Linked DNA regions of Homo sapiens. The protein of the gene in region 2 interacts with the protein of the main gene of each other region in a pairwise test. Each region holds a gene or a part of one and is shown on either strand. Other genes may lie near its edges.

What was found.
Region 1: the proteins of MORC3 (region 2) and RNF216 interact in binary tests that used the Homo sapiens proteins (3 or more experiments, as listed by UniProt).

Annotation. Positions count from the first base shown.
Region 1 is NC_000007.14:5,732,788-5,748,164, forward strand, and holds part of RNF216 (E3 ubiquitin-protein ligase RNF216), read right to left. Parts: intron 9,029-15,377; coding exon 8,186-9,028; intron 6,566-8,185; coding exon 6,489-6,565; intron 1-6,488.
Region 2 is NC_000021.9:36,333,198-36,348,574, reverse strand, and holds part of MORC3 (MORC family CW-type zinc finger protein 3), read right to left. Parts: intron 14,930-15,377; coding exon 14,857-14,929; intron 11,702-14,856; coding exon 11,569-11,701; intron 10,844-11,568; coding exon 10,629-10,843; intron 9,802-10,628; coding exon 9,654-9,801; intron 7,177-9,653; coding exon 7,029-7,176; intron 3,997-7,028; coding exon 3,868-3,996; intron 3,664-3,867; coding exon 3,544-3,663; intron 1-3,543.

The DNA.
Region 1 (15,377 bases), on a different chromosome or scaffold from region 2:
TCATATGACCTCATGTTTGAGCTGATCTGACATGCTAGCAGTTCTAGAGAAGTCACTCCTGCAAAGTAAGCCAGGCTAGTACTCCAACCTTTCAACCCTTAGATAGTTGTTGCTGCCTTCATCCAACTGAAGCTGACCACGTGTGAGTGAAAGGTCTAAGTTAACCAGCCAAAGTAGATTACCTGCCATGTGGTTCTCTAATGAATAGGCTTCCTGCTTAAAATGGCCAGACGGTTCCATCTGAAGGCCATTTAAAGATGCACATAAAGCAACTGAGACTGAGCTACAACAAAATCCCAGCCTGCTCAACTCAGCTTTGGGCCTTATTTCCAGTTTCCATTAACATTTTAGTTTAGTTGTGGAGTTAACACTGTCCTAGGAGTCCAGAGAATAATGGAAAGGAAAGCAGTGTCAGGAAAACAAGACTGGCTTGAAAAGATGCAATACAATGACTGTACATTCCCTTGCTTTTTGGATTTCACGAGAATTTTAATGTGTTTAAGGATCAGTGTTTGTTTCTGAGTGACACAAAAAGCACAGAGGGTCAGCAAGTCCCTAAAAATAAGTACACGTGTGAGACTCAGGAAGTAGGAGAACAGAACTGTAAGAGAAGGTATCAATTTGATTACGTTTTAGTGATTTTTCTAGACAATCTTGAAGATATATTTAAACATGATGTTCATTTGCAGAAGGAGAGAAAAACATTGAATATACTCAATTTCTATGAGGTTAAACTGTTAAAAAATACTAAAACATGGTATCTGGTATTCAAATCATTGTTCTATAAATGAGCTAAGTTTATACTTTTCTCTATCATTTACATTTTCTGTAATGAACAAACCTGTATTACATTTCATAACCAGGAAAACATTAACCAAAAAAAAAAAAAAAAGGAATTCAAAGAGAAGAGAGAAGTAAACAATTCACACGCAAGGGAAATACAATTAGTAAACAAATATTTGAAAAACACAGCCAATTAGCAAAGAAATGTCACTTATGCTACTTCATGCCTACTCTAGTTAACTACAAAAAATAACATCATAACTCAGTATTGTCGAAGAGTTGTTAAAGCAATTCACACATATAAGTTGCTTTTTAGATGAGTAGAAGCCTACAAGAAAGTTTTCATTGTAAAAATGTAGTCATTGCTGCTCAATTTTCCTATAAACCTAAAACTGCTCTAAAAAAATAAAGCTTAGTAATTTAAAAAAATGTAGTTATTATCATGCCACTTAGAAACCCAAAAAGAAAGTATTTTAAAAGCTTAGGAGGGGAAAAAAATCTCCAACAAACAATTCTGCTGGAAGACACAAACATAGCCAATAGGAAGGTGGATGCCAGGGTGTGGGGCAAGTAGAGTTCAGGAGACAAGCAGGAGAATGTTCACAGCTACATTATTTGTGACAGTCAGAACTCAAATGCCTATCAAAAGTAGATGGAAAATTTCATTGCTAAGTGGTATAAATGGAATACCATTTAGCAATGGAAAATATATAAACTGTGGTTCTACCCTACATGAATAAACTTAACATAATGCTGAGTGAAAAGAAATCAGACTCAAAAGACTATAGACTATACAAAATCTTTATGTAGTGTTCAAAAAGGATAGCAACGTTCTATTTCTTGAAGATTTCTGGGTTGTGGTTACACAAATGTTTGGTTTGTGATAAATTATTGAGCTGTGCATCTTTACTTTGTTCATTTTTCTTTATGTATATTATATTCTATAATAACCAAGTTTAAAAACTATACACAATAAAGAATATGTGGAAAGGCTTCAGAAGAGTGAGTAACTGGCATGTAAATAACCAAATGGCTTTCAAGGTTAAATACCCAGGTAGAGTCTGTCGTTGAAAAATAAAAAATGCTTTAAGAGTTTGGGTAATCCAAGCCAGGTGAGGTAACACATGCCTGTAATCCCAGCTATTCGGGAGACTGAGGCAGGAGAATCACCTGAACCTGGGAGGCGAAGGTTGCAGTGAGCTGAAATCATGCCACTGCACTCCAGCTTGGGCGACAAGGGCAAAACTCTCTCTCAAAATAAATAAATAAATAAATAAATAAATAAATAAATAAATAAAAGGTTTGCAGGGCATGGTGGCTCACGTCTCCCAGCACTTTGGGAGGCTGAGACAGTGGGATAACTTGAGGTCAGGAGTTCGAGACCAGCCTGGCCAACATGGTGAAACCCTATCTCTACTAAAAATACAAAAACTAGCTGGGCGGTGGGCACCTGTAATCCAAGCTACTCAGGAGGCTGAGGCAGAAGAATCGCTCGAACCCAGAAGACGGAGGTTGCAGTGAGCCAGGATCACGCCACTGCACTCCAGCCTGGGCAAGAGAGTGAGACTTCGTCTCAAAAAAAATAAATAAATAAAAAAGAGTTTGTGTAATCCAAAAACTTCAAGACAGGAGTCTAAAGTCGTTTCAAACTGACACTGCCCTTGGGGACTTGAAAGAAGCAAAAGCAATAATCTCTAAAGAAACCAACTCTATCAAGAACTCAAGATATGAGCTTAGAGTCAAATTTAGAAAATACACAAGAAAACTAGGCACCATGGGAGCCAGCAGGAAGAACAGAATATGATTCCCAAGAACTTAACATATCAGAACAATCAAACTCACAGAGAAGCTATGTTTATTGGTTAAAGAAATTAAAAAAAGATTAAAAATATAGGCAAAGAGCAAAACTCTAGGAAAATAACCAAGACAATTAAAAGCTAAAATTTCATAACTGAAAACCAGTAACACGGTAGATGAGTTAAAAGGAGATTACACTCTACTGAAGAGAAATTTGTGGGCTAAAAGAACACCCCTGAAGAAATCATCCAGAACGCATCTCAGAGACAAAGAGGTGGACTTAGAGACATGGAGATTGTGGGAGAAGAGTTACAGAAGACAGGAAACAGCTACAAAATTTCCAGAACTGACCAACACCACCAATCTATGGCCTGGTAGTGTACACTCTTAACGGTTTTGCCTTACTGACAAGCATGTTAAGTAAAATTGATAAAGATTAAGGGAAGGCCAGGTGCAGTGGGTCACACCTGTAATCCCAGCACTTTGGGAGGCCGAGGCAGATGGATCACCTGAGGTCAGGAGTTCAAGACCAGCCTGGCCAACATAGGGAAACTGTCTCTACTAAAAACACAAAAATTAGCCAGACATGATGGCGCATGCCTGTAATCCCAGCTACTTGGGAGGCTGAGGCAGGAGAATCACTTGAACCTGGGAGATGGAGGCTGCAGTGAGCTGAGATCACACCACTGCACTCTAGCCTAGGTGACAGAGTGAGACTCCGTCTCAAAAATAAATAAATAGCTCTCCCTCTCCCTGTCCCTGTCCCTGTCCCTCTCCCCACAGTCTCCCTCTGATGCCCAGCCGAAGCTGGACTGTACTGCTGCCATCTCTGCTCACTGCAACCTCCCTGCCTGATTCTCCTGCCTCAGCCTGCCGAGTGCCTGTGATTGCAGGTGCGCGCCGCCACGCCTGACTGGTTTTCGTATTTTTTTTTGGTGGAGATGGGGTTTCGCTGTGTTGGCCGGGCTGGTCTCCAGCTCCTAACCGGGACTGATCTGCCAGCCTCGGCCTCCCGAGGTGCCGGGATTGCAGATGGAGTCTCGTTCACTCAGTGCTCAGTGTTGCCCAGGCTGCAGTGCAGTGGCGCGATCTCGGCTCGCTACAACCTCCACCTCCCAGCCGCCTGCCTTGGCCTCCCAAAGTGCCGAGATTTCAGCCTCTGCCCGGCCGCCACCCCGTCTGGGAAGTGAGGAGCGTCTCTGCCTGGCCGCCCATCGTCTGGGATATGAGGAGCCCCTCTGCCCGGCTGCCCAGTCTGGGAAGTGAGGAGCGCCTCTTCCCGGCCACCATCCCTTCTAGGAAGTGAGGAGCGTCTCTGCCGGGCCACCCATCATCTGAGACGTGGGGAGCGCCTCTGCCCCGCCGCCCCATCTGGGATGTGAGGAGCGCCTCTGCCAGGCTGCGACCCCATCTGGGAGGTGAGCAGCGTCTCTGCCCGGCCGCCCCGTCTGAGAAGTGAGGAGCCCCTCCGCCCCGCAGCCACCCCATCTGAGAAGTGAGGAGCCCCTCCGCCCGGCAGCCGCCCCGTCCGGGAAGTGAGGAGCCCCTCCGCCCGGCAGCCGCCCCGTCCGGGAGGTGGGGAGCACCTCTGCCCGGCTGCCCCTTCTGGGAAGTGAGGAGCCCCTCTGCCCGGCCGCCACCCCGTCTGGGAGGTGTTCCCAACAGCTTATTGAGAACGGGCCATGATGACGATGACAGCTGTGTCGAATAGAAAAGGGGGAAATGTGGGGAAAAGATAGAGAAATCAGATTGTTGCTGTGTCTGTGTAGAAAGAAGTAGACATAGGAGACTCCATTTTGTTCTGTACTAAGAAAAATTCTTCCGCCTTGGGATGCTGTTGATCTATTACCTTACCCCCAACCCAGTGCTCTCTGAAACATGTGCTGTGTCCACTCAGGGTTAAATGGAATAAGGGCGGTGCAAGATGTGCTGTGTTAAACACATGCTTGAAGGCAGCATGCTTGTTAAGAGTCATCACCACTCCCTAATCTCAAGTACCCAGGGACACAAACACTGCGGAAGACCCCAGGGTCCTCTGCCTAGGAAAACCAGAGACCTTTGTTCACTTGTTTATCTGCTGACCTTCCCTCCACTATTGTCCTGTGACCCTGCCTAATCCCCCTCTGCGAGAAACAACCAAGAATGATCAATTAAAAATAATAATAATAATAATAATAATAAATAAATAAATATAAATCTGATGACAGTGGTTGCCTCTGTACAGAGGTGGGATCAGACAAGGCCACTAATGGCTCCAACAGTGTCATTGTACAAATTAGAAAAAAGTACCTACATTGGGCTAAGCACCTGGAAAGGGGCCCTTCCTTCTCAGCCTTGGCAGGGAAGAAACTCACCTGCAACCTTGACTGAGAACTACAGTATAAGATAGGAACTTTGGGGAAAGGTGTTTAGTGAACTATTTTGTTTAAATTTACCACCAGGCTGAGCACGGTGGCTTATGGCTGTAATCCCAGCACTTTGAGAGGTGGAGGTGAGCAGATCATGAGGTCAGGGTTTCAAGACCAGCCTGACCAACATGATGAAACCCTGTCTCTACTAAAAATACAAAAATTAGCCGGACAGGGTGGAGTACGCCTGTAATGCCAGCTACTCAGGAGACTGAGCAGGAGAACTGCTTGAACCTGGGAGGTGGAGACTGCTGTTTAAGCCAAGATCGCACCACTGCACTCTAGCCTGGGCAACAGAATAAGACTGTCTCCAAAAAAAAAAAAAAAAAAAAAAAAAAAAAATTACAATTATTTCACCTCTGCAGATTAGAAGGAGGGGAAAGAGTATATTTTTCATTTTATATTCTTCAGGAAAACTTATTTTTTAAAAAAGCATATTTACCACTTATAAAAAATTTTTTTAAAATAAGAGACAAGGTCCCACTCTGGCTCCCAGGCTGGAGTGCAGTAGCGTAACACAGCTCACTGCAGCCTTGAATTCCTGGACTCAGGCAATCCTCTTGCCTCAGCCTCCCAAAGTGCCAGAATTAAAGGTGTGAACCATATGTCTGGCCCGTATTTATCCCTTTTATAATGAAAATTAAGAAATATGGCTGGGAGCGGTGGCTCACACCTGTAATCCCAGCACTTTGGGAGGCCGAGGCGGGTGGATCACGAGGTCAGGAGATCGAGACCATCCTGGCTAACATGGTGAAACCCCATCTCTACTAAAAATACACAAAATTAGCCAGGCGTGCTGGCAGGCGCCTGTAGTCCCAGCTACTCGGGAGGCTGAGGCAGGAGAATGGCCTGAACCTGGGAGGCGGAGCTTGCAGTGAGCCGAGATCGCACCACTGGACTCCAGTCTGGGAGACAGAGTGAGACTCCGTCTCAAAAAAAAAAAAAAAAAAAAAAAAATGCTTCCATGTATTTCTCCAAACAGAGTGGTTGCAGAACATTTTGTTACAATCGTAGGGAAGAAAATGTCTTAACATCTTGACTAAAACACAGGTAGTATCAACGCTTAGAAACAACTCAGTTATCATAATTCTATAACCATGCAGTATTCCATAAAATCCAGAAAACAGTCTGTGTATCACTAATGTCAGAACGAACAAGGTCATTAAAAAAGACATAATGCCAAGTGAAATAAGCCAGTCAGAAAAGAACAAACACATGAGGTCCCTGATAGTAGCCAAATCCATATAGAAAGAAAGTAGGATGGTGGGTGCCACTGGCTTGGGAAGGGGATGGGGAGTGAGTGTTTAATGCGGACAGAGTTTCAGTTTGAGAAGATGAAAGAGTTCTGAAGATGGATGGTGGTGATAGTTGCATAATAATGTGAATTTACTTAACAACACCAAATTGTATATTTAAAAATGATTAAAATGGTAAATTTTTTATTACATATATTTTACCACCACCACCACCACCACAAAAAAAGCATGGTAGTATACTTACACATTCAGATCATAATAATTCTTAAAATGAATTATTTCCTCAATAAACCCATTTGCTACATCTGGAAATCTTGCTTCCTAGAAACAAATAAGAACATAATTTATATTTCATTCACTAGAATGGTTTCAAATGGCAATACAAGACAGATGGCAAAAAGTATAATAAAATGACTAAAGACTAGAAAAGGGCTGTGAAGCAGGTCTGTGTGTGTCTTCAAATTCAACACTAGTTCCCAGATTCATCTGTCTACATAGAAGATGAGGTCTAGAAAGGTCTTGAGAGATCTGGTTCTCTGTCCCCATTTTACAGATCCATTCTTCATTGCTTCAACAAATATTGAGCATCTCTGTCTAGACAAAGGGAATCCAAACACAAATAAGTTACAATCTCATGCCAGCCCTCAAGCAGCACACAACCTAGTGCCTAGATAAAAACACCTGGGTGGCCGGGTGCAGTGGCTCATGCCTATAATCGAAGCACTTTGGGAGGTCGAGGCAGGCGGATCACCTGAGGTCAGGAGTTCAAAACCAGCCTGGCCAACATGGTGAAACCCCGTCTCTACTAAAAAAATACAAAAATTAGCCAGACGTGGTGGTATGTGCCTGTGATCCCAGCTACTCGGGAGGCAGAGACAGAAGAATCGCTTGAACCCAGGAGGCGGAGGTTGCAGTGAGCTGAGATCGCACCACTGTACCCCAGCCTGGGTGACAGAGTGAGACTCGGTCTCAAAAAAAAAACAAACCAAAAACAAAACAAAAAAAACCCGCCTGGGTAAAGTAGGGTTAACGGACTTGTTTGAAGGCAAATAGTGGCTACCAGATGTAACACCTTTTTTTTTTTTTTTTTTTTTTTTTTTTTTTTTTTTTTGTGAGATAGAGTCTCACTCTGTCGCCCAGGCTGGAGTGCAGTGGCACGATCCTGACTCACTGCAAGCTCTGCCTCCTGGGTTCACACCATTCTCCTGCCTCAGCCTCCCAAGAAGTTGGGACTACAGGCGCCCGCCACCACGCCCGGCTAATTTTTAATTTTTTTAGTAGAGACAGGGTTTCACCGTGTTAGCCAGGATGGTCTTGATATCCTGATCTTGTGATCCACCCACCTTGGCCTCCCAAAGTGCTGGGATTACAGGTGTGAGCCAGCACGCCCAGCCCTTGTGTTACTCTTAATATCACCACTAATAGAACTTTGTTGGATGACAGAAACACTGTCCTCCATGCTTGATGATGAGGTAAGCTGTTAGCCTCATGTGGCTACTAAGGTTAAGATGTGACTGATGCCACTGGAAAATTTTATTTAACTGTAAGACATTTAAATGTAAACAGCCACAAGGAGCTAGTAAGTGCCATATTGGACAGCATAGGTCTAGGTAATTCAATAAAACTGCTTTAAGGGTTTCCATTTGGAGTGAACTCAAGGAATTTGAAAAAAACAAGGGACTGCAGGTATGACAGCACCAGGCCACCATGATATGCAGTTAGAATCCCAGAGAGCTTCCTGAAGGTTAAGTATAGTAAAGGAACCCTGATTCCATTTTCATGTCTTCAGAGTGTCTCTTCTATTCTGTACATCTAGATATATACTTCTTAGGAAAATGAAGTCCACGCATACCAACAACTTTTTTTTTTGCAATGAAAAAAAAAAAAGAAAAAAACTCAGTATATGTAGTGTCTACATTTACTTGATAAAATAAAACTTACCGTTTCTTTCACTAGTAGTTCAACGAGCTCTTGATCTACCTCTGCAGCTTCTTGCCCCCAAATGTTTTCCAAATTGGGCTCTTGAGATTCTTGCATTGGAAAGGCTGGACCTGGCTCTTCATCATCACTTGCTAACTGCTGGTCTTCAAACTCTCCTAGAGGATGGGCAGGCTGAGGAGAAGAGGGGCCTGAAATCCCACCTTGCTGGGGTTCCGGCCTTGGAAAAGCGGGCCCTGGGAATTCATGCTGAAACAACAAGCGGCCCAGTTCTGCTTCAGGCTGCCGTTCCTGAGGAACGACCTGGTTTGTTATTTCACGGGGCTGTTGGTTCAGAGACTGGAAGTAAGGATGATCTAACCAGCAGTCTTCTTCGATGGCCTGATCATCTGCTAGAGCAGCTGACTCTCCTAGATTTGATAACAGCTCTGTCTCTGAGTCTTCGGATGACTGGTTCTGAGTTTCCAAAGGATCGCTTTCTGTGTAAAGAAGGCTACCTTCTTCCAAGATGATGACTTTCTGCTCTGATCTGGGGTTGACAATGTCATTTGCTGCTTGGTTATGACTCGGTCCAGGCTTGGGTTCTCTTTCTGTTTGGCCACTTGGCTTAGTGAATTCAGAGATTCCAGGAGGCCCAAGATCCAGAAATTCACCGTAGTCATCCTCAGAATCATCCTGTGCCCCAGAATCAAACAATGGGTTGTTACACACTGAAAAATAGCTGCTCTTATCTGATTCAAATGCTGCTCTAGACTTTTTAGGCCTTTCTTCTCCCAACCTTTTCAGATCTTGCCACTGGGCAGCTGGTTTGATGAGATTGGGTCGTGATCTCTGAGGTTTATTTGTCTAAGAAAAAATGAAATTTTAATAATTCAATTTCTTTCCTATGCCTATCCCTCCTTATGTACTTATATTGAGCTTCCGAGATAGGACAGGAAAGAAACAAAAACACCATCTCCCTTAACAATACCTATTCTTTACATTTATCTTAACACTGAAATTTGATTACACTATATACTATCTGTAAGAATCAAAGTAGTCATTCATAGATTAAAGCTTGAGATATAGTTTGAATTATAATTTATTTTTATTTTTGAGACACAGTTTTCCTCTGCTACCCAGGCTGGAGTGCAATGGTGCGATCTCGGCTCACTGCAACCTCTGCCTCCCGGGCTCAAGCAACTCTTGTGCCTCAGCCTCCCAAGTAGCTGGGATTACAAAAATGTGCCAACATGTCCAGCTAATTTTTGTGTTTCTAAGAGAGATGGGGTTTTGCCATGTTGGCCACGCTCGTCTCAAACTCCTGGCCTCAAGTGATCCGCCTCCCTCAGCCTCCCAAAGTGCTGGGATTACAGGCATGAGCCACTGAACCCAGCCCTGAATTATAATTTAACCTGAGACTACTAAAACAAAAATAACTCCACAGCAGATACAACAATGAAAGAATGCTAACACATCAGAAGAATAAGAAATGTTCAAAAAACATATAAAAAAATCTAAATCTCATTAGTAACTAGCAAAATGAAAAATTAAAACAAGACAGTATTTTTTTCCCTGTAAGACCGGCAAACTTTTAAATTAGATAATACCAAGCATTGGTGAGGATGGTGAAAAATCTTTTTTTTTTTTTTTTTTTTTTTTTTTGAGACAGAGTCTCGCTCTATTGCCCAGGCTGGAGTGCAATGGCATGATCTCAGCTCACTCCAACTTCTGCCTCCCAGGTTCAAGCAATTATCCTGCCACAGCCTCCCGAGTAGCTGGGATTATAGGCGCACACCTCTACATCCAGCTAATTTTTCTATTTTTGTTAGAGACAGGGTTTTGCCATGTTGGCCAGGCTGGTCTTGAACTCCTGACCTCAGATGACTGGCCCACCTCAGCCTCCCAAAGTGCTGGGATTACAGGTGTGGGGCACCGCGCTTGGCCGATGTGTGAAAATTCTTATACTATCATTTACTGCTGGTGAATTTAGGAGAGAAATTTGGCACTATTTATTAAAATAAAAAACGTAGGCCAGGCGTGGTGGCTCATGCCTGTAATCCCAGCATTCAGGGAGGCCAAGGCAGGCGGATCACGAGGTCAGGAGATCGAGACCATCCTGGCCAACATGGTGAAAATCCGTCTCTACTAAAAATACAAACATCAGCTGGACATGGTGGCGTGTGCCTGCAATCCCAGCTACTCGGGAGGCTGACGGAGCAGAATTGCTTGAACCAGGGAGTCAAGAGGTTGCAGTGAGCCAAGATGGTACCACAGCACTCCAGCCTGGAGACAGAGCAAGACTCTGTCTCAAATAAATAAATAAATACACAAATACATAAATATAAATAAAAAATGTATGTCTGTCATCATTTTTTCATACTGTTCTATAAACTCTATCGAAAAAGGGCATATACAAGAATATTCAGCATAAACAGAAAAAAGCCTAGAGACATTGTGAAGTTTGTCCCTGAGTGAATGGTTAAATAAACTATTACTTATTTGTTCTACAAAATACTCTACAACTGACCCCTACCAAAAAAAGAGGTAGCTCAGTCTGTACTGAAATGGGAAGCTTCACTAAGAAATGCCATTAAGTGAAGAAAAGCAAGCTGCAAAATCATACACAGAATGATTCCATTTACTTAAAATATGTCAATAAGACACAAACAAAATCATTTCTAAAAGTATGTATATGTACCCACATGTATATACACATGGATACATACAAATTCAAAGAAAAGACCTGGAAGGATACATGCTAAACTGGTAACAACAGTTCCTCTGGGAAGTCCCTAGAAGAAAGGAGATGGTGAATCTCAGGCTTTAGGGTGGGTCCCTGAGGACTATGCCACTGAAGTAAGGGCCAAGCTGGAAATACCCTGGACCTCCCAGGAACTGAATCGCAGCGTGGAGAGTTTAACTCCCTGAATGTGAGGTGCTGGTGCTCTTACTCTTCTTCAAGAAACCAATTAAGATCCTCTATAGAGAAACAACATCATACAGAATCCCAAAATTTTCATATACAATGACTTACACTCAATCAAAAATAACTAGGCATACAAGAACTTAATGCAGCAACAGAAAATCAAAACAAGAGAAGTAACAGACAACAGAAACAAATATACAAGGGTTTCACACAGTGAAATTAACAACATGAATTCTAAAGTAACAGCATGTTTAGGGAAATCAAAGACTAGATTGAGAACTGCAGCCAAGAAGAAGAAGAATCGAACGCAAATTCCAGAATGGAAAAATACAATAACTAATACAAAAACTAAAAATACAATAACTAATGCTACATATGGATATATAGCATTTTAAGTAAATACAGTTGAAGAGAGAAATTAGTGCATTGAAAGCCAGGTCAGAATAGCCATAGTAAGGCATAGACAAAATGCAACATTAGATAAGAGAACACGTCAAGAACAAAAAGGTCTTCAAAACACATAACTGGAGTTGTAGAAGAGAAGAAGCTGTTTCTTTGGTAGAGGAGGAGGAAGGAAAACAAGGGAGGGAAGGGAAGGAGGGGGACACATAATGGTTAGTTCAAATAACCATTCGAACTAAATAAGGGAAAAAACATAAGGAGTCACAGATTAAGACAAAGTAGAACAACAGTCTGTTTTGTTTAATTCTATAGAATATATTCAAAACCTCAAAGAATACATTGGTTCTGAAGACTCTACAAAACAAACAAACAAACAAAAAACAACCCTCGAAGAAATAAAGAAAACTTCTGGCTAGGCACGGTTGGCTTATGCCTATAATCCCAGCACTTTGGGAGCCTGAGGCAGATGGATCACCTGAGGTCAGAAGTTTGAGACCAGCCTGACCAACATGGTGAAACCCCATCTCTACTAAAACTACAAAATTAGCTGGGAGTGGTAGCGCATGCCTGTAATCCCAGTTATTTGGGAGGCTGAGGCAGCAGAATCACTTGAACCTGGGAGGCAGAGGTTGCAGTGAGCCAAGATCGCGCCATTGCACTCCAGCCTGGGTGACAGAGCAAAACTCCCATCTCCAAAAAGAAAAAAAAAAAAGAAAACTTCTAAACTTTTTATGAAGTCAGAATCATGCTTATAAAAAAATAAACATGTCAAGGATATCATACGTACACACAAACCTACGGGCCAATCTCCACCTGTAAGATCTACGGAGAAAACACTAATATTAGCAAATGGAATCCCCAGCAGCACATTACTACTACATTACAATGCCACAACCAAGGGGAGTCTTTTCAAAGACAATAACTTACCAACTAAGAGGTCAAGGAAGAAAAACCACATGACAATCTCTGTAAGATGCTGAAATTGAATGTAACAGAATCCTACATTCACTTCTAAAAAAATTTTTTTAAGTCAAAGTAAATGACTAGTTCCTTAACATAACTAAAGAAATGGTATCTAAAGCAAAAAGGCACCATCACATTTAATGAAGAAACATTAAGTATTCCCATTTATGTCTGTGGCCATTCGTGCTCTTCTCTATCAACACTATTAAAATTTTTGAGGAAGTACCGTAATATAATTAGACACGTGAAAGAAGCATAAAAATTGGAAAGACAGATCAGATGCACGTTTTCAAGAAATTAAGAGTCAACTGAAAAATCACTACAGATAATAATGGTAAGGTGATTGAGTATAAAATTAATGTAAAAAGCAACAAGGGCAGGGCACGGTGGCTCACGCCTGTAATCTCAGCACTTTGGGAGGCTGAGGTGGGTGGATAACTTGAGGTCAAGAGTTAGAGACCAGCCTGACCAACATGGTGAAACCCCATCTCTACTAAAAACACAAAAATCAGCCGGGTGTGGTGGCACACACCTGTAATCCCAGCTACTCTCGGGAGGCTGAGGCAGGATAATTGCTTAAACTCGGGATGTTGCAGTGAGCCGAGATCAGGCCACTGCACTCCAGCCTGGGTGATAGATTGAGACTGTCTTAAAAAAAAAAAAAAAAAAAGAGCAACGAGAACACTTACTCTCCATTTTGGAATGAAGCATTGCCTGATGCTAGACTCACAATAAAGACAGTTGAGATCCTTACACTAAATTTGTTGTAATTTTGTCCTTTGACAGGTCTGGCAACCCAAAGGGACAGAGACTGTTGATATCTTGAGGTAACTCAAGGAACACAGGAAAAACGGCTAACTCCCTTTTTTGGGAAGTAACGTTTTCCTCATGGAGCTGCAAGTGTCGGAAGTCCTTCTCAGGTCTGAGCTCTGCTGTCTTTTTAGCACCTGGTCTCTTTGACTTTGAGGGTACCAAGGTTAGGCTGCACTGTGAGAGAGCATTTGACTTTGCAGTACCTAGGGTTAATCTGGGCTATGGCAGGGCACAGGACTTTTGGGAATGTGGGGGCTCACAAATCACTGGCAATAACTGTATTTTTTGCTCCCTCTTTGCAGAGGTCTTTACGGCTTGAGTCAAGCCCCCAAGATTATGGCCAGACAGAAATGTGGGTGCAACTCCATTTGCTGCTAGCATACAGGGGTGCAGTTTTAAAGCTAACTGATACCAGCTGTGTTGAGTGCAGGGAGGGTATAAACTCAGGCTTTTGGAATCTGTGGGTATGTGGATTCCTTTTCTTGCAGGCTTAGGTGAGGGAGGCCTCAGGTGTCTTGACTGAGTCAGATGGAAACTGCAAAGTGATTGGCTAGGTAGGACATCTTGGAGCCAACGTCATCCCGGTCCTGAGATATACAAGGTCCAACATAAAAACAGCATCCCTAATTTCTAAAAATTGGAGTACTCTGCCTTCTGGTAGTCTTGCCTTTTCATGTATAAAACTTCTGGCTCCAGAAGCTACAAATAGTTACACAAGTGGCAAAACTTTACCAAAAATAATTCAGAATTATGATGACCATGATGTGGAATGTTCCAGATGAAAAAGAGTGTTCATCCAAGAAATTCACTTGAATCCTAAGACTCCAAATTACACGGAGAGAACGAGATTCTTACTGGCATTCAGAAGCCTCAAAGAGACAACAGAATTCTAAAATAGCTTTTTTGAAAGATTAACTGCAAAAAGCTAATGAAAAACTAGAAACGCAAGATTACCTCCCACACCAAAGACAGATAAACTAATGTAACTCCTACTGCTCCCATTTTACCTGAATACTGCATCTACTCCTGAATATTCACAGTCTACTAACTCTGAGTTGCCTTTCTTCTCTGAAAAGAACAGTTCAACTGTTTCCTTATAAAACAGAACAACCTGAAAATGTAGCATGAAATTCCTGACTTACATGCTACGGATAAAAACAGGTCATAGTTTAAAAATGTCCTAAACCTGGGGAAGACTTTCAGACATTTTTTAAAGAATTCAGAGTCTTAATTATAACTTATGATCCTAGGATACCTGACTTATTACCAGCTAACACATGGTGGGACCAGGGGAAGGAGAGGGAGTAAAAACGGATAAAAGCAGCAGAAGCAGAATATTATTTTCCTGAGGATGATATTCAGGACCTGACAAGTACTATCCAGTCTACTTATGGGCCAGGCAAAGCCTGAAATATCAGACGTGACCCTTAGAAAGCCATTTCCAAAATGTTTCAGCTCTACGGTGTTATCTGAAAGCAAAATAGATGCCCCTTTATAAACTAAGACAGATCCTAAGGTTTTGTCTGTTTTTTAAAAATTAGAGACAAAGGTCATGCACGGTGGCACACACCTGTAATCCTAGCTACTCTGGAGGCTGAGGCACAAGAATCACTAAACCTGGGACGTGCATGTTGCAGTGAGTCAAGATTGCACCACTGCATCCTGGCCTGGGCAACAGGAGACTCCATCTCAAAAAAAAAAAAAAAAAAAAAAAAAAAAAGGGGAAAAAAAAAGAAAAAATAAATAATAACTAGATACAAGGTCCCAGGCTGAAGTATAGTGGCACAATCATAGCTCACTACAGCCTTGAATTCCTGAGCTCAAGTGATCCTCCTGCTAGGCCTCTCAAAGGACTGAGATTACAGGTTTTGAGCCACTGTGTCTGCCCTGACCCTTAAGGTTAAGGAAACAAAAATCACCTATGAGGTCAGGGTTCAGGGTGACTGGTATAGCAACTCCCTAAATTCCTATGCTCCAAGAAAAATCAAACTGTTGCTAAGCTCCATACCAATAGGCGGTATCAGGCAAATATCAGACCCCTCCCTAACTCTGATTTACAACCCAGAAACCCACTACAACTCTTAACACAGACAGAGGACTGGCCTTACA
Region 2 (15,377 bases):
TTAGCCGGGTGTGGTGGCATGCACCTGTAATCCCAGCTACTCAGGAGGCTGAGGCAGGAGAATTGCTTCAACCTGGCAGGCGGAGGTTGCAGTGAGCTGAGATCGTGCCATTGCACTCCAGCCTGGGCAACAAGAGTAAAACTCCATCTTTCAAAAAGACAAAAAAAGAAAAGAAAAGAGGACTACCTCTACTAGGATACAATTTCTTAGAGAACAGAAACCACAAATAATTCATCCTGATCTTGTAGTGACTAGCAAAGGCTCTGAAAGGCAATATTCCATACGTTTGTGAGATAAAAGTTAAAGTCATTTACCCAAAGTTAGGTATCCAGTTGCTAACAATGAAGTAAAAATCTAGGTTGGTTAAATTAGTTATTTTTTAAATCTGCTAGCTAAAATGTTGAACTCAAAGTATATGAGTCATCTTCTGATTATCTACGTGTGACTAACAAGTATATTTTGTTCATGATTGTAGCTATACTTCTTAGTCTATGAAGAAAAAAGTAAAATGTGTAACTCATAAAATGAAAATTTTTATAAACCCAACTATAGACCAAACCATACAACTAATCCTAATTCTGCTCTATTAAAAACCATCAGGTTCACCATTTCAGACTATTTTTAAACTACAGTAATAACAATATCCTTCAATTTGTGGTTCTTATCCATCTTCCTTCCAGCCTTATCCTGTCTCTCTCATTCCTCTGTTCTCCACTTAAAATATGGTCCAGCCACATCAAATTACTCCCTTTATGATGTCATACTCTCAGAAGCCTCTTTCTCTGCCTTTGCACATGTTGTCTCTGCCTGGAAAGCCCTTCCAGACTTTGCAGCACAGTGAAATCAACTGAGACTCATTTCAATCAACACTTTCTCTAAGAAGCCTTTTCTGATGCTTCCAAGGATGTTCCACAGTCCCCTCACAAAACTGAGCTTTGAGGGCATGCTCTGTATTTTACCAACTTTTTATGCTGAGCACCCAGCACAGCAAATCACAATGGGTATCTGATACTTATTTAATGTTTACCGAATCCACAGAATGCAAATACTAGGCCCAGTCCATCATCTGGTAAAGATAAACATTGTAATTTAGCTGTAACAGCCTATCTTTACAAGGTCGAGCTTAACTAGGAAATATGTACAGTACAAATTTAACTCGGTTGGGAAAATGGGCTATATATCTTGGTTAAGTCAGATTCATAGGTGATAAAAAGAAAAAAATTTACATTCTGTGGTAGACATAAAGTTCATTTACTTCTGCAAATATGCTATATTTGGGCTCATGCCATGTAAAGTAGGTGAAGCAGAGTCAGAACCCCTGTTAAGTGGTATTCAAGGTGAATCTGCATTGGTATACTGTGTAGATCTCACATCATTCTACAAAAAACTCAGAATAAAGTTAAGACAAAGAATTATCACCAAAATCTTAAAAATATGCAATGGATCCATATCCAAATGCAGTCAAATGATGTGTTTGTGTCTGAGATCCACGCTGTTATGTCTTAAGCAACTTGCTTCATCTATTTGTTATTTGCCCCAATTTCTTTGTTTTTTTTTTTTTTTTTTTAAGAGACAGGGTCTCACTCTGTTGCCCAGGCTGGAGTACAGGGGCAAAAATCATAGCTCAGTGTAGCCTCAAACTCCAGGGCTCAAGCACTCTCCCACCTCAGCCTCCCAAATAACTAAGACTACAAGGACGTACAACCACACCTGGCTAATTTGTTTTTATTGTTTTGTAGAGACGATTTTTGTTTGTTTGTTTGTTTGAGATAGGACCTCACCCTGTTGCCTAGACTGAAAAGCAGAGGCACAATTTTGGCTCACTACAGCCTCAACTTCTTGGGCTCAAGCAATCCTCCCACCTCAGCCTCCTGGTAGCTGGGACCACAGGCATGCACCACCAGGCCCAGCTAATTTTTGTATTTTTTTGTACAGACAGGGTTTTGCCCCATTGCCCAGGCTGGTCTTGAACTCCTGGGCTCAAGCAATCCCCCGGCCCAGACCTCTCAAATATGCTGGGATTACAGGTGTAAGGCACCGTACTCAGCTGAGGTAGAGACTTGGTATGTTGCCCAAGCTGGTCTTGAAGCACTGGCCTCAAGCAATCCTCCTACCTCAGCCACACGAAGCACTAGGATTACAGGAATGAGCCACTGTGTCTGGTCCCCAACTTCCTTATGCATAAAATAGGGATAAAAGAAATATTCTGTCCCCACCTCAGGGCTGTTCAGGATCAAATACAAAATTAATATACTAGGCCGAGCGCATTGCCTCAGGCCTGTAATCTGAGCACGCTGAGAAGCCGACGTGGGTGGATCACTTGAGTTCAGGAGTTTGAGGCCAGCCTGGTCAACATGGTAAAGCCGTCTCTACTAAAAATACAAAATTTGGCCTGGCATAGCGGCACACGCCAGTAGTCCCAGCTACTTGGGAGGCTAAGGCCCGAGAATCGCTTGAACCAGGGAGGTGGAGGTTGCAGTGAGCTGAGATCACACCACTGCACTCCAGCCTGGGTGACAGAGTGAGACTCCATCTCAAAAAATAAACAAACAAATAAATAAATAAAAGAAATTAAGGTGCTGGCATGCACCTGTAGTCACAGCTACTCAGGAGGCTAAGGTGCGAGGATCACTTGAACCTGGGAGTCAGAGGCTGCAGTGAGCCAAAATTGCGCCACTGCACTCCAGCCAGGTAGAGTCTCTCAAAAAATAAAAATAAAGCCGGGCGCGGTGGCTCACACCTGTAATCCCAGCACTTTGGGAGACCGAGGCGGGTGGATCACCTGAGGTCAGGAGTTTGGGACAAGCCTGGACAACACGGTGAAACCTCGTCTCTACTAAAAATACAAAACAACTGGCCGAGTGCGGTGGCACACGCTTGTAATCCCAGAACTTTGGGAGGCTGAGGCAGGCAGATCACCAGGTCAGGAGATCAAGACCATGCTGGCTGACACACTGAAACCTCACCTCTACTAAAAATACAAAAATTAGCCAGGCGTGGCGGCACGTGCCTGTAGTCCCAGCTACTTGGAAGGCTGAGGCAGGAGAATTGCTTGAACCCAGAAGGCAGAGGCTGCAGTGAGCCGAGATATCGCCACTGCACTCCAGCCTGGGCGACAGAGCAAGGCTCTGTCTCAAAAAAAAAACAAAAAACAAAAAAAACCAGGCGTGGTGGCATGCACCTGTAGTCCCAGCTACTTGGGAGGCTGAGGCAGCAGAATCACTTGAACCCAGAAGGTGAATATGGCAGTGAGTTTAGCCAAGATTGTGCCACTGCACTGAAGCCTGGGCAAGACTCAGACTCCGTCTCAAAAAAAAGGAAGGGAAAGGAAAGGAGAGGGCAGGGCAGGGGAGGGGAAGGGAGGGGAGGGGAGGGGAGTTAATAAAAGTTCAAATACCACAGTGTTATTTTTTACAAATTTACATTAAAAAGCTATAGGCAAAAGGTACAATAAAATTATTTAACATTTGACTCAAGAGCATATATTATCCTAACTTTTGTGGAAAATAGACATTTTCTTTTCAAATAAAAAATAAAGCTTACCCTTAACTGACATCCAACTTTTTCATAAGCTTTGATGAGTCTATTTCTGTGATACATCATTATCCCATAATGATCTTTATTTCTGCAGTTGAATCCAAAGGTAATTCTCACTGTTTTAGACTTAAAATATTAAGGTAAATTTTGAACACAACACCTCACTCAGTTCAAATCATCCTTTCTATTTCATTATTTGGTAAGTCCAAAAGCACACAAAGGAGGGCAAAGCTAGAGCAGACTAGAATCCCTATCAGCATATAAGGGGAAAGGGGCAAAAGAGAATACACCTGACTAACATATCTCTATAAGGAATCAGAAAAAGGATACTAAAAATTTTGGTCGATAAACATCACGTTCGATGTAGGCAAGACTCTTCGAAACCAGCTGTGTCTTCACTTTCTGTCCACGTAGGATGATCTGCATTCTTGGCTTTAGATATAATATACTGCAATAAGCCTGGAAAATAACATAACAAGAAGTTAGTATCTACAGGTTTGCTCACCATTACTTAGACATGGATTTACACAGAAGCTCTCCTATTAACTTGATAAAAGATCAATTAACTCTTCAATAAAATAGGCTATAAAGCTGTATGTTATTCTGATTTGGTTATTTTTCATTAAAAATAAGCTCAATATACCGCAGCCAGTAAAAATGACTTGCAGAATACAATCAACTGATCTATATAGATGCTGATATATTTATTACTAAGTGAAAAAGATTACAAAACAGCACGTATGGTATGATCACATTTTAATTTTAAAAAATGTATATATGTACAAAAAGGTACATTTTCTGATTTTTCTGTCAAGTATGGAGGCGGAGGCTGCAGTGAGCCGAGATCACACCACTGCACTCCAGTGTGGGGGACAGAGGGAGACCCCCCCACCTCAAAAAAAAAAGATTCAACACAAAACTAAAACTTAAAAGCTTCTCCTACTTTTCCTGACTCTTGATTTCAAAAGAAGTGGTGCTTTGCGTCATTTAAAAAACACTGTATTTTGTAGTGTACTAAAACCATACCATCTTCTCTGGCTGCCTCTGAACCTGTTTCATACTTGAATAAGACTTTTTCAACACTAGGAACACATTAGGATACATCAAGGAACAGTAAATATCTGCTATTTACTATTTTAGTAAATAGTAATACTACTATTTACTATTACTATTACTAATAATGTAATTGCTAAGACCTTAGCAAAAATTACATGAAAAATCTGTAAATGACAAATACATCCACAGCTTGGGATTAAAGAATAATATCAACACAAGAAATAAAGCAAAAAGTGGCTAGGCAAGGTGGCTCATTCCTGTAATCCCAGCACTTTGGGAGGCCGAGGCGGGCGGATCACGAGGTCAGGAGTTCAAGAGAAGCCTGGCTAACATAGTGAAACCCTGTCTCTACTAAAAATACAAAAATTAGCCAGGCAGGGTAGTGCATGCTTGTAGTCCTGGCTACTCAGGAGGCTGTGCCAGAAGAATCGCTTGAACCCAGGAGCCGGAGGTTGTGGTGAGCCGAGATCACGCCACTGCACTCCAGCCTAGGCAACAGAGTGAGACTCTGTCTCAAAAAAAAAAAAAAAAAGAAAGCAAAAAGTTAGTATCACATGTCTTATCAAAACAACTAAAAAACTTGATATTGGCCGGGCACGGTGGTTCACACCTGTAATCCCAACACTTTGTGAGGCCGAGGCAGGCAGATCACTGAGGTCGGGAGTTCGAGACCAGTCTGGCCAACATGGTGAAACCTTGTCTCTACTAAAAATGCAAAATTAGCCGGGCATGGTGGCGCATGCCTGTAATCCCAGCTAGTTGGGAGGCTGTGGCAGAAGAATCCCTTGAACCCAGGAGGTGGAGGCTGTGGTGAGCCAAGATCATGCCATTGCACTCCAGCCTGGGCAACAAGAACAAAACTCCGTCTCAAACAAACAAACAAAAAAACCTTGATATTAATTTATCGACATTATTATATCAAGATATTAATTTCTCCAATCTTTTTTTTATTTTTATTTTTTGAGACAGAGTTTCACTCTTGTTGCCCAGGCTGGAGTGTAATGGTGCGGTCTTGGCTCACCACAACCTCTGCCTGCCGGGTTCAAGGGATTCTCCTGCCTCAGCCTCCCAAGCCGCTGGGATCACAGGCTCCCGCAACCGTGCCCAGCTAATTTTTCTATTTTTAGTAGAGACAGGATTTCACCATGTTGGCCAGGCTGGTCTCCAACTCCTGACCTCAGGTGATCCACCCGTCTCTGCCTCACAAAGTGCTGGGATTACATGTGTGAGCCACTGTGCCTAGCCCATTTCTTTTAATCTTAAACAGATACTCATTTTGACCAGGTGCAGAGGCTCACACCTGTAATCCCAGCACTTTGGGAGGCTGAGGCAGGTGGATCACTTGAGACCAAGAGTTTGAGATCAGCCTGGACAACTTGGTGAAACATCGTCTCTACCAAAAATACAAAAAAATAGCCGGGTGTGGTGGCACACGCCTGCAGTCCCAGCTACTCAGGAGGCTGAGGTGGAAGGATTGCTTGGGGCCAGGAGGCAGAGGCTGCAGTGAGCTGAGATCTCACCGCTGCACTCCAGCCTGGGTGAGAGAGTGACACCCAAAGACCTAATCTCCAAAAAGAAAAACAAAAAAACAAAAACCTCATTTCTAAAGGGAAAATCCTAGAGGCATTTATCACAAAATTATATTAATGTACCTTATCTAACTATAGTCTATAATTTATTGCTTTAGGAGGACAATTAAGGTATGTATTCTAGAATACGTTAAATTTTTTGTGTGTGTGTGATGGCGTCTCACTCTGTCACCTAGGCTGGAGTGCAGTGGTACAATCTCCGCTCACTGCAACCTCCGTGAACCGCACTGCCCCACCTGCAGGTTCAAGCGACTCTCCTGCCTCAGCCTCCCGAGTAGCTGGGATTACAGGTGCCTGCCACCGTGCCCAACTAATTTTTGCATTTTTAGTAGAGACGGAGTTCAAGACCATCTTGGCCAGGCTGGTCTTGAACTCCTGACCTTGTGATCCACCCACCTTGGCCTCCCAAAGTGCTGGGATTACAGGTGTGAACCACCGTGCACGGGCAAATACGTTAAAATTTAATAAGACTTTGAATTTGTTGTTTTTTGAATTAGTCTGGCCACCATATACTGACTAATATATTGATTCTAATAAGATAATAATGTCAGCATATAGTAAAAACTACAAGCATTGTTAGGCCTGACGACTTCATAATTTAAAAAGGGTTTCCAAACAAATAAATCAACCAGTGTGCTAATGAAAAGTTTAACTAAATTTGTGTGTGTGTGTGATACAGCCTCACTCTGTTGCCCAGGCTGAGTGGGCCAGGGAAAATCATGTCTGAGATACTTTCATTTAGAGAGCACTGGCAGCCTTTCTATCACAAGCAGGTAACATGACCTCTCCTAATACTACCAGCATTCAATGATTTTCTCACTTCCACAAAGAGAGCTGAATACATACCCTCAGGGAATAGTCACTCTCAGGGGCAATCTGGTCCATCCTTTCCTGCTTCTTGTACCCCTTCTTCCCTGTTATCTCATCTAAATCCTCGGGAATTCTGATATCATATTTATCCTTTTCAAAATCGAACTCTGTTGCATTTTTGTAGCTGTAAAAATAATTTTTAGAAAGAACCAAAATTTAACTTCACAGCAAGATAAGCCAGCAAACACTGTAAGTCATTAAAAAGGTAAGCAAATAAATAAACCTACACATGGTGCACGTCAGTGGGGGGTTGGGGGTGCAAAGGCAAGAGAAAAAGAAAGAAAACGGATCCTGGATGATGTGGAGAAACTGTAACACTCATACACTGCTGGTAGGAAAACACTCAGGAAAACAGTCTGGCATTTCTTAGAAAATAAAATGCAAGTACTATATGATACAGCAATTACACTTCTAGATATTTATTTCAGAAAAATGAAGACTATATTCCCACAAAACTGTGTACACAAATGTTTACAGCTTTATTTGTAATATCCCAAAACTACAAACCTAGATGTCTTGAATAGGTAAACACACTGGGTTCCATACATACAATGAAACACTACTCAGCAAGAAAAAAGTGCAAACTGGCTGGGTGCAGTGGCTCACGCCTGTAATCCTACCACTTTGGGAGGCTGAGGCATGTGGATCACCTGAGGTCAGAAGTTCAAGACCAGCCTGGTCAATATGGCAAAACCCTGTCTCTACTAAAAACACAAAAATCAGCCAGGCATGGTGGCAGGTGCCTATAATCCCAGCCACACGGGAGGATGAGGCAGCAGAATCGCTTGAACCCGGTGGGCGGAGGTTGCAGTGAGCCGAGATGGCGCTATACTTCACTCCACCCTGGGGGAAAGAGCAAAACGCTATCTCAAAAAAAAAAAAAAGAAAGAAAGAAAGAAAAGAAAAGAAAGAAAAAAAAAAGAAAAAGGAAAAGGTGCAAACTATACATACAAGAACCTGGAAAACGCCAGGAGTTATGCTAAGTGAAAAAAGTCAAATCCAAAAGGTTTCCATGTTGTTTATGTAATATTCTTAAAATGGCAAAATTATAGAAATAGAGAACAGATTAGAGGTTGCCACGGATTAAGGAGGGAGTGGGGTTATGAGGGAAGTGGGTATGGCTACAAAAGAGCAACATGAGGGATTCCTGTGATGACTAAAGTGTCCTGCATCTTGACTGTATCAACATCAAAATCCTGTCAATATCAATAGTACTACTGTACTATAGTTTTTTTTTTTTTTTTTGAGACAGAGTCTCGCTCTTTCGCCCAGGCTGGAGTGCAGTGGTGCTATCTCGGCTCACTGCAAGCTCCGCCTCCCTGGTTCACGCCATTCTCCTGCCTCAGCCTCCTTAGTAGCTGGGACTACAGGCGCCCGCCACCGCGCCCAGCTAATTTTTTGTAATTTTAGTAGAGACAGGGTTTCGCCGTGTTAGCCAGGATGGTCTCGATCTCCTGACCTCATGATCCACCCGCCTCAGCCTCCCAAAGTGCTGGGATTACAGGTGTGAGCCAGTGTGCCTGGCTGTACTATAGTTTTGTTAGATGTTACCAGCAGGGGAAACTGAATGAAGTGTACCTAACATCTCTCTATTACTTCTTACAACTACACATGAATCTACAATTACCTCAGAAAGTATAATTGAAAAAATCCTCCAGGAGAAGGAGGGGTAGGGAAGTGAAAGCAAGAAAAACGAATTCAGGTATCAGAATAGCACAAGTTTTTTCAGTTCTTTAGGCTTATCACTACCTGTGCTTTATTCCTGTGATTCAGTATGTCTTAGATCTTTCAGTATTAGACATTAGTCTTAAATTTTAAAATTTATTTGCGAAGGATTTTATCCTCACAAAGATAAAGGATTATAAATTTTAGCAACACAAAAATCTCACCTATATTACTTTTCTCATCAGGTGCTACATCACTTTTAGTTTTAAGTAATGTACACAATGAAGAAAGATTTATCCTCCTGAATTTGTCTTCTCATTGCTTTTTTTCTTTTTTCTTTTTTTTTTTTTTTTTTTGAGAAGACGGGGTGGAATAAATGAGAGAGAATAGAGTGCTAATGGAGACTGAATGGCAGGGATAGAAAAAAATTTTTTTTTTTGGCCGGGTGTGGTGGCTCACGCCTGTAATCCCAGCACTTTGGGAGGCCAAGGCGGGTGGATCACCTGAGGTCAGGAGTTCTAGACCAGCCTGGCCAACATGGTGAAACCCTGTCTCAACTAAAATACAAAAGTTAGCCGGGCATGGTGGCAGGCGACTGTAATCCCAGCTACTCGGGGGACTGAAGCAGGAGAATCGCTTAAACCTAGGAGGCGGAGGCTGCAGTCAGCTGAGATTGCGCCATCGCATTCCAGCCTGGGGAACAAGAGTGAGACTTCGTCTCAAAAAAAAATTTTTTTTAACAAGATGAAAATATCTCAAATTGAAGCTGAAATGGCCTCTATAACATATCCTGGGCAAAGACAAATCAGTAACTACACCAAAAAATGAGTACCTTTCCATGTATTTCTACTGTGTGTAACGAGAGATGAATATAACACCACCACCCTGCACGTGCACTTTACTTCCCAAACGGTCAACATCTATGTCCACGTTTACCTTCTAAGATTCCAAATGATGATCCTCGTCCCCTTCTTGCCTATAATAGCATCAAGTTCTGCCAGTAACTTCTGTTCCGTGGAAAACAGAGAATGTTCCAGAATTGCAGCAAGGCTGGCTTTTGATTCTGCTAAATTAATCATCTGTCGTATATCATAAGTTAAAGACTCAGATTGACAACATAGTTTTCATAATTACAATATGAAAACTAACTCTATAAACTTAAATAACAGAAAAACTATTTATAAATAATTTTCTAAGGTTTTTTTTTTTGTGAGATAGGGTCTCACTATTGCTTAGGCTAGAGTGCAGTAACATGATCAGGGCTAACTGCAGCCTAGCTGGGACCGACCACAGGCACCCACCACCACGACCGGCTAATTTTTAAATTTTTTTTGTAGAGATAGGGTCTCCCTACGTTGCTTGGGCTGGTCTCAAAATTCCGGGCTCAAGCAATCCTTCTGTCTTGGCCTCCCAAAGTGGTGGAATTTCAGGGATCAGCCACCGAGCTCAGCCTATTTTCTAAGTTTTAACATGGCAGTTTGATTTCAAATGAACAAGAAGAAGAATAAAAAATAAGCAGATTATTATTCCTAACTAACTTAATACTTTCTAATATTCCAATGTGTTCATACAAAAGGCATTTTCCTAAAGTTATCCTGCCTTTTGTGGTCACTAGTCAAATTTTCAAGCCAAACCATAAAGTCTTACTAGTCTACAATAACCCTGAAGTAAACAGAAGAGCTATGGGAAGTTTAACATAAAATGTTGAGTATTTCCATAGCAGGATTCCAACAGAGAAGAGAAAGGGACAAACCCTTAGCCTCAGGTGTAGGGTAAATGCAGAGGACAGAGGTAAGAAATGGAATAGGTGTTATTCAAAGGGAATAATCTGGAAGAAGGCAAAAACATAGAATGTTTCCAAATTATTTCTTCAGTTTCTCCACAGCTTTTATTTCACAACCAAAAGGATATGGTGCTTGTTGAATGCCACTATTGGAACAACAACATGCTCCGCTTTTATGACTTCCAAGTAGGTCTGAGACAAAAGGCCCACGCTCATGCTTTCTCCATTTTTGGTAAAAACGATTGCGTCTTTACCCAGACGCATAGAACCCGACTTGAAGCCATTCCCATATAATCCAACTGGGACATGACCATTCATGGTGACTTTGTCACTGAAGCCAAAGCTAAGAAGAAAATAAAGATTTTTAAAAATAAATACCTATAATCAAAAATAAATAAATAAATAAATACCTATAATCTTTTTTTTTAATTCATTAATTGTAATACCAAGTAAAAAGCCTGGGTTCAAATACTGGCCTCACCCTTCCTAGCTGTATAATCTTGGGCAGATTACTTTTTTGTTGTTGTTGATTTTTTATGTATCGGGCAGATTACTTTTAATCTATCTTGACGTGTTTTCCCAGCTCTGAAATAAGGAAACCAAATCTACATCACAGGGGAGAAAAAGGATCACAAGTACTAACATGCAAACTCATCGCTGGCACACCCTGACTAAATAGCTGAGTATAACCCATGCTTCCGGGACTGTGAGATTTCACCCCATGAATCTCTTCCTCTAAAAGTTACTCCCAACAAAGTGGTAGGTTTTATTACAAACAATGGTTAAACCTAATTTACACTAAAGTTATCAGTAATTGATATAAATATACTACAACTCTAAAGGAATGGTGGACTTTTAGGGAGTTGGAAGTAGGGTGGGGTAGGTGATGACAGTGGTGAAGACTGACTCATCATCTACCAGTAGTAGAAAATCATGCTTAGAGAACAGCTCACACTGTACATACAGCATTTCATTTCAAAAAACAAAAACCAAGAATAGTAAGTATGGCATGGAAAACCCTTTAGGTAAAAGCAACAATTTTAAGAAGTGTGGCACATTTTTACCTACCTTAGCATTTTATGTAATTTATCAGAAGTCATACCATTCCCATTGTCGGTGAATGTCAAGCATATATGGTCATTTATCACTGTTTTGTCAATCCATATTTGTTTAGCGTTCACATCAGGATCATAAGCATTATCTGGGAAACACAAGTTTGAAGAAATTCTGATTTTACACTTTAAAAAGAGCAATTAGTTCAGAACAATCCTGTAAGAAGCAATAGAAGACTATGTTTTAAGACAACTTTAAAAGCTGCAATTTTTAGCAGCTTTAAAATTTAAAGATTTTAAACATGAAAATAAGATTTAAAAACATGAAAATAAACTGCATCCTGGTATATATTAATCGACTATTATAGAATTAACACCCTCCATGTTAAAGAGACAGCAAAGACTGGTACCCAGCACACCAAAGAAGTACAAAGGAAGAAAAATCACTACACTGCAGAGATGATTAAAAGATGGACTAAGTCTGCATGTGGTGGCTCACGCCTGTAATCCCAGCACTTTGGGAGGCTGAGGCGGGCAGATCACCTGAGGTCAGGAGTTTGAGATCAGCCTGGCCAACATGGTGAAACCCCATCTCTACTAAAAAATACAAAAATCCGCCAGGCATGGTGGCACATGCCTATAGTCCCAGCTAATCCAGAGGCTAAGACAGGAGAATCGCTCGAGCCTGGGAGGCAGAGGTTGCAGTGAGCGGAGATCGTGCCACTGCACTCTAGCCTGGGCAACACAGCAAGACTCTGTCTCCAAAAACAAAAACAAAAACAAAAACAAAAAAGCTGACCATGGTGACTTACGCCTGTAATCCCAGCACTCTGGGAGGCTGAGGTGGGCAGATCACCTGAGGTCAGGAGTTTGAGACCAGCCTGGCCGACAGGGTGAAATCCCATCTGTATTAAAAAAAAAAAAAAAAAATTAGCCAGGCATGGTGGCGGGCACCTATAATCCCAGCTACTCAGGAGGCTGAGGCAGGAGAATTGCTTGAACCCAGGAGGCGGAGGTTGCAATGAGCTGAGATAGCGCCATTGCACTCGAGCCTGGGCAACAAGAGCGAGACTCCGTCTCAAAAATGGAAAAAAAAGAAAAAAAGAGAGAGACTAACCTGGCTATTGTAGGGGAAAGAGATCTGAGTGTCAATGGAAGGTACACAATAATCAATAAATAAATGAAAAGGCAGCAACATTTTCTGCTAAGTTACATACAAGGATGGAAGATTTACTTTCTACTATTTCTTTAAATTGTGATCCTTTTCAGTTTAACCAAGTTAAACCAAGTTTCTGGTGGCTTTTACATTTTTATTTCTGTATACTTCTCCATTTAACATCCTTGTTTAGCATACTCATTTCTCTCAGAATAGGTGTAGGAAGAAATACGTTTAAAAATGAAAAATAGGGCTGGGCGCAGCGGCTCATGCCTGTAATCCCAGCAGTTTGGGAGGCAGAGGTGGGTGGATCACCTGAGGTCAGGAGTTCGAGACAAGCCTGACCAATATGGTGAAACCCTGTCTCTACTAAAAATACAAAAATTAGCCAGGAGCGGTGGCATGTGCCTGTAGTCCCAGCTACTCGGGAGGCTGAGGGACAAGTGCTTGAACCCAGGAGGTAGAGGAGGTTGCAGTGAGCCGAGACTGTGCCACTGCACTCCAGCCTGGGTGACAGAGCGAGACTCTGCCTCAAAAAAAAAAAAAAAAAAAAAAATTCCTTCTTTTTCTTTTATCTTCCATCTATGATAGAACCCTTCCTTGATAAAGATTCTAAAATATATCTAAGAATTCCTAAGAATACAATTTCCCTTTATTATCTGTTTCTTAAACATATGCCTAAATTTTTCAATTAGGCTTATGTTTGTGTGCATGAATTTTTCTTTTCTTTTTCTTTTCCTTTTTTCTGGAGACAGGGTCTCACTGTAGCCCAGGCTGGAGGAAGACTCACTCTGCTGCAGCCTTGACTTCCCTGGCTCGAGTGATCCTCCCACCTCAGACTCCCGAGTCACTAGGACTACAGGTGTGCACCACCACCCTGGCGAATTTTTGTATTTTTTGTAGAGATGGGGTCCCACTATGTTTCTCAGGGTGGGCCCCAACTCCTGGGCTCATGTGATCCTCCTGCCTCAGCCTCCCAAAGTGTTGGGATTACAGGTGTGAACAACTGTGTGCCCAGCCTATGCATGAATTTTTCCCAAGAAAAAAATCATGACCCATAAATGCAAATCAGACCGCAACCTTGCCGCTTTCTCACGTTCATTGAAATGCTGTTAAAATACAATCCTAAACCTTAAACTTCCCATTTATTGAAAGAAGCAAGAACTTATTACATATCTAACACAATACCAATCCTCCTATTGATACCAGAAAAATGAATCCATGCTGTATGTTACACATACTTTTGTACTACTAATAAACATAATTCTGCCAGTCACTGTGGTGCACACTTGTCATCCCAGATACTCCTGAGGCTGAGGTGGGAGGATCGCCTGAGCCCAGGAGTTTGAGACCAGCCTGGACAACATGGTGAGACCTCATCTCAAAATAAGCAAACAAATTCCCCATAATTCTCACTGTTTACTTTTATAATAAAAATAAAAATATTTTCAATATAAACACTTCAGGAACTTAGCAAAGTAAATCCTAAACACTATGAAATACTTGGGTAGTATTAAAGAGAAAGCTGAACAGTGACTAATCTGACATCCATGTGAATAGCTGTTATGCTATGCAATTTTTATCATTAATGTTATCATTCAAGGTATCTGTTTTTTTTCTTGCTTTGTCGCCTGCCCAGGCTGGAATGCAATGGCACAATCACGGCTCATTGCAGCCTCAACTTCCCGGTCTCACGTGATCCTCCCACCTCAGCCTCCTGAGTAGCCGGGACCACAGGCCTGCACCACCATACCCAGCTGATTTTTAAAATATTTTTGTAGGCCGGGTGCGGTGGCTCACACCTGTAATCCCAGCACTTTGGGAGGCTGAGGCAGGCGGATCACGAGGTCAGGAGATCGAGACCATCCTGGCTAACACAGTGAAACCCCGTCTCTACTAAAAAAAAATACAAAAAAATTAGCTGGTCGTGGTGGCAGGTGCCTGTAGTCCCAGCTACTCAGGAGGCTGAGGCAGGAGAATAGCGTGTACCCAGGAGGCAGAGCTTGCAGTGAGCCGAGACTGCGCCACTGCACTCCAGCCTGGGCGACAGAGAGAGACTCTGTTTAAAAAAAAAAAACAAAACAAAACAAAAAAAAAAACACTACAATTGTAAGCAACAAATGGTATATGAAATGTCAAACTACATACCTATTAATTCAGCAACTGCACTGAATGGCCAGGTGTGACTAGTAGAATTTGTATGTAAAAACTTCGGGCAAAGCTGAAACAAACAAAAGGTCCATGTAAATTAATTCAGGTCTTACTTTTGAAAATAAAAACCAGTATTTTTATCCCTGTGTTAAACAACATTGAGACCAAACAAAAGTGACTTAGCTGCTTGCTCCAGGATACATCTGGAAGATACAATCTAGAATATACGATTCTTGGAAGATAACACTGGGAACCAACTAAACAGCTTACTCACCAAGACTTGGTTCAAAACCCTTGCCCTCTTTATGTCTACAATGTCATAACTGTCCAATCCCAAATAGGGACATACCTTGCCAAGACCTACCTTAAAATGATCCAGCCAAGGCCCTAAAATCCTATAAACACCATTTCCTAATTTCTCTATTCTGAGACACAACTAAGACTTTGTCAAGGAGGCACTTTCTCCTACGTGTATCAGGCCTAATAAACTTAACTGTGCTTGATCACTAAGTTTTTCT